Linked DNA regions of Homo sapiens: region 1 is linked to region 2. The links come from fine-mapping of genetic effects on gene expression. Tissue or cell type: whole blood. Region 2 holds a variant in brackets; the other region holds the start of a gene. All regions are shown on one strand. Distances are between the middles of the regions.

Region 1 (2,687 bases), 59 kb after region 2:
ATCCTTAGCTGAATCAAGCAGAATCAGAAAAAGAATTCCAAGAAAGATATATTGAGCATCTACTTACTATATGCTAGACACTGTGTAGGACCCTTTTCACGCTCTTGTTTAATTATGACAGCCCTGAAAGGTGATCATCATTGTGCTCACCTTACAGATGATGAAACAGACATTCAGAGCACTTTGTGACTTGCCTAAAGTTTCACTGTCAAGAAGGAACCAAGTCTCCTGACTTCAGGCCTTCCCACTATGAGATCACCAGTTTATCGTAACTAGAGGCCTCTCCCATCTAAAGCATCTTTGTAACTGCTTTCCCTTTCCCCACACTGCCTACACATAAAGAAGCCCCTAATTTGTAACAAGTCATTTGACAACTCCAGAAGAGGGGCCACATCCTTTTTCTCTATGTCTGTTGATTAACAAAGACAACATTATGTTTCCAACACCAGTCAGACCAAGGGGGAAAAAAGTCCCCATGACTTCAGTAATTTTCCATCCTTTGGAACAAGGAAATATACACAAAAGGTTTACTATAGAATGTAAGCATTGCTTTTAAATGATGCCAATCTCTCTTTTAATGTGGCCTAAATCCTAAAATTTAAAGTGTGATAAGCCGGGCGCAGCGTCTCACACCTGTAATGCCAGCACTTTGGGAGGCGGAGGCGGGTGGATCACCTGAGGTCGGGAGTTCAAGACCAACCTGACCAACATGGAGAAACCCCATCTCTATTGAAAATACAAAATTATCCGGGTGTTGTGGTGCATGCCTGCAAATCCCAGCTACTCGGGAGGCTGAGGCAGGAGAATCGCTTGAACCCAGGAGGCAGAGGTTGCGGTGAACCGAGATTGCGCCATTGCACTCCAGCCTGGGCAACAAAAGCAAAACTCCGTCTCAAAAATAAATAAATAAATAAATAATAAAATAAAGTGTGATAGTGTCCTTTCTTATATTTTAAGTAGACACACAAGCCTTAATATATATGTAAACCATAAATATCATGGCCAACTGTTCAAGATTGGGCTCTCACACTAACACACCTCTTCCTTGCAACTTGCACCCAATTTGACTCTGGTCCTAGGCATGCTGACCTGAAATAGTTGCTGGCTGCGGCAAGCACCACGCGGTGGCAGGAGAATTCCTGAATGTCCACACACAAGATGACATCTGTCAGAGCGTTTTCCATTCGCAGGGTTTCCAGGCCATTCTGAAGAATTAAGGAGAGTCCCGCGTCGTCAAATTTGACCTTTTCCCCATTTAAGATCTCGACCAAGTCTCCTGTTTTCTGGGAGGGCTCATCTGTAGAAGGTGCCAGGGGCCCTTCCAAACTCTTCTCGACCACATCACCCATGGTCCAGGCGCCCCTTTGTCCTGCCATCAACATCGAGACTGAAGGAGCGCCCAAGTGTCAGGCAGGCCCCATTGCAGGAGCTGAGCGGATTTCCTGTGCAGGGCCCTCCACTTATCACCAGCTGTCACACACACATAACAGGAAGTCTCGCACTTTCTCATCCTGTTACTACAAATGCCAGCAACTTCTATTCTTCTTCTTTCTGTGAGTAATCACAGGGTTAGAAATTACTTAGAATAGGTGTGTGGGAGGGGGTTCTGGAAGAGGAGTGTCCTCTCAGAGTCCACTGTGAGTGCTGTGTGTTTATTTTGGTGCATCTCCCACCTCATATCCGTGAGCAGGAAGCCTCCGGTGGTGGCTGTTACATTTGTACTCCTAATGCTATCAATAACCCAAGTCGTCAATGAGGGGATGGACAGGAGACAGTCTATAATCCTCCTGCTTCACATTTGTACTCCTAGTGGCTCAATAACCCAAGTCGTCAGCGAGGGGATGGACAGGAGACAGTCTATGATCCTCCCACTTCCTCCTCCCAGGAGTCTGAGACCCCACAATGATCCAACAACCGTGCTTTGTAAACCATGGAAACCCCACTTATCCCTGACATTCTCATTTCTGGCGGCACTGCAGATCGTCTATCTTCATCCTCCTCCCTACCCAGGGGAAAACAACGTCATGGCAAACTTTCATGTCTTCCCCCACCAAAAAAAATGTCTATTGTTTCGAATATGCTTTGGGGGCACAGAAGAAATGGTTTCCAAAACTCCATCAACAGCATCTTCTCAGAGGATGAGTCAGGGTGGGTCTACACCGAATTGCCATAGCACGTCTCAGATTAGCCCAACATCTACTGACCGTGCATCTAACGGTGGATCCTGAAGTATTTTCATTACCTCTGCATGTCTCAGTTAAGTAGTAATAACTGTCATTATTAAAATCCCATGATATCCTGGGGAAGTTATAGGAGCGTATCAGTTAGCGTTCTCTCACGCCCAACAGTAATGCTTTACCAGGTTGCTAGGTATTTCTTAGCCCAGCAAACTTGACATCTAAAATTAACCATTACAATTACAGTCATACCCAGCATAATGATATTTCAGTCGATGATGGACTCCAGAGAGACAGAACCAAAAGGATACCTAGAGAGGCATAGCAGAGGGAAATTATTAGGGGAATTGGCTCACGTGATTATGGAGACTGAGAAGTCGCATGACAGACTGCTGAGAGCTCAGTTCAAGTCCAAAGGCCTCAGAACCAGAGAAGATGGTATAACTCTCAGTCCAAAGCCAAAGGCCTGAGAATCCAGGGGGTGGGGAGACTGGTGTAAGTCCTGAAGTC
Region 2 (2,687 bases):
AACTTTTGAAAAAGAAAAGGGAAGAAGGAGGCTTTCCTTATCAAATATTAAAATATACTATAAAGCTATCCTAATACAAACAGTGCAGTACTAGACAAACTGATCAGTTAAAAACAAGAGCACAGAAACGGACTAAAATATATACAGATCATTAAATAAATGTTATTAGAACAATTGGTTATTCATTTGGATAAAGATTAAGTTAGATACTTATTTTACATTACATTTAAAATAAAATTCAAATGTTACTGCTACAGAAGTAACTGGAAAATGTATAGGATATTATGTTAATGACCTTGGGGTTAGGAGGGGTTTTCTAAGCATGACATGAATGTAGAATTGTATAGGACAGAAAACAAGTATATAAAGGTAAAAAACAACCACAGTCTAGGAGAAAATATTTGCAACACAAATAGCAAAGGATATATAAGAAGAGTTCCAAAAAATTAGTAAGAACAAGACAAAAACTGATAGGAAGTGTCAAAGAGTATGAACAGATAATTTTTAAAAATAAATACAATTATCTGGTAAATATATATTTACCATTCTAGTCTATTAAAAATTTAAATGACTAATAATAAAAATCGTTAGCAAGGATATAGAAAATGAGCACTGTCATTCATCACTGATTGAACTGTAAATTGGTACAACTTTTCTGTAGGAAAATTTCACAATATATACAAAATTCTTAATTCACATATGACCACTTCCAGGAAACTTTCCAAGTAGCAGCACAAGTATGAAAAAATATGTGTCTAAGAATGCCTACTGCAATATTTTTTAAGGAGACCAAAAAAAGAAAGCTAAAAAAATTATGGTTTATCCATTTGGTAGACTGCCATATAGCTGGTAAAAAGAATAACAGTAGTGATAATACTGGCCAACATAATTAAGCTCCCACCATGTGCTTTGCATGTAATAACTATATCACTTGATATGTATATCCATTAAACCAACATGTCATCATGTCCAGATGATATTGTTAATTGAAGTACAAGTTTCTGTTGATTTAGCCGTGTATAACAAGCATGCTTTCAGGTATTGCTTGTATCATTAAAAAGTGAACAACAAATTTATGACAAAAGAATAACATGTGGGCTGGGCACAGTGGCTCGCACCTGTAATCCCAGCCCTCTGGGAGGCTGAGGTGGGCGGATCACCTGAGATCAGGAGTTCAAGACTAGCCTGGCCAACATGGTGAAACCCTGTCTCTACTTAAAATACAAAAAAAAAATTGGGCCGGGC[G/A]TGGTGGCTCACGCCTGTAATCCCAGCACTTTGGGAGACCGAAGCGGGCGGATCACTTGAGGTCAGGAGTTTGAGACCAGCCTGTCAATATGGTGAGCCCCCCACCTACCAAAAATACAAAAATTAACCAGGCATGGTGGTGGGCACCTGTAATCCCAGCACTTTGGGAGGCCAAAGCAGGCGGATAACCTGAGGTCAGGAGTTTGAGACCAGCCTGGCCAACATGGTGAAACCCCCTCTCTACCAAAAATACAAAAATTGGCCAGGCATGATGGCATGTGCCTGTAGTCCCAGCTACTCAGGAGGCTGAGGCAGGAGAATTGCTTGAACCTGGGAGGCAGAGGTTGCAGTGAGCCGAGATCTCGCCATTGTACTCCAGCCTGGACAACAGAGTGAGACTCCATCTCAAGAAAAAGAAAAAAAGAATAACACGTGTAGTATATGTGACAAAGACTGACTATGATGACCACACCTGTTGATCCCTCCTGGGCACACAGCTAAACTACATTTCCCAGGTCCCTGCACCCAGAGGGGGTGAGGGGAGGGTAAGGGAGGTCATGTGGCTAGTTTTTGCCAATGGAATGTGAGCAAAATTGATGGCACTTCCAGGCTGAGGCTTTTATGAGCAGGTGTGACTTCTCAACTCCCTTAGCTTTTTTCTTGTCCCTAAATCAAGGCCATGTGTAGGAAGAGGCAGTGTCAGAAGATGGCAGGCCCCTAGGCCCCTGAGTGCCTGAGTGGAGCAGACTGTCCTGCCCCGACCCCTGCATACTATTGTGTTAATTCACTGAGACTTAGGATTTGTAACAGCAGCTAAAATTATTTACCCTGAGCAAATAGAAAACAATTTTTGTAAAAAATGAAAACCCATAGAATTGTGATGGCACAGAGAAACTGCCCTATTTTACTTTACGTGCTCAGTATTGTTTGGATCTTCTACAACAATTAAGGCCGGGCGCAGTGGCTCACGCTTGTAATCCCAGCACTTTGGGAGGCTGAGGCGGGTGGATCACAAGGTCAGGAGTTCAAGACCAGCCTGACCAACACTGTGAAACCCCATCTGCACTAAAAATACAAAAATTAGCCGGATGTGGTGCCACGTGCCTGTAATCCCAGCTACCTGGGAGGCTGAGGCAGGAGAATCATTTGAACCCAGGAGGCAGAGATTGCAGTGAGCCGAGATCACGCCACTGCACTCCAGCCTGGGCAACAGAGCTAGACTCTGTCTCAAAAAAATAAAAAATAAAATAAAATAAACGTCTACAAGATTAAAAGAAAGCTAGAACCTAATCAATGGTATAAATGCATCCAAAGAATGACCTGCCCTTGATTTTGGAGGAAACACGCTCTGGGGTCCAGCTTTCCCCACAAGTTCAGATTCAAGAAAAGCCTCTAAGAAAGGGGAAGGGAAGCTTGTCTCCTTCCTTAGGGTCCCAGGGAGA

Evidence for each region. PIP is the estimated chance that this variant, and not a neighbour inherited with it, causes the effect.
Region 1: it holds the start of KLHL6, and the variant in region 2 is fine-mapped to the expression of KLHL6 in whole blood (TOPMed, PIP above 0.99).

The regions. Positions count from the first base shown.
Region 1 is chr3:183,554,272-183,556,958 of GRCh38, forward strand. KLHL6 (kelch like family member 6) reads right to left here and starts at 1,435. Exons shown (of 7, transcript NM_130446.4): 1 at 1,090-1,435. The coding sequence starts at 1,382.
Region 2 is chr3:183,495,760-183,498,446 of GRCh38, forward strand. All of the region lies in intron 4 of KLHL6 (kelch like family member 6), which reads right to left. Among named protein-coding and RNA genes, the nearest start is that of SNORA63E, 43 kb to the left of the region's middle. The variant G/A (reference allele first, on the strand shown) is at 1,246.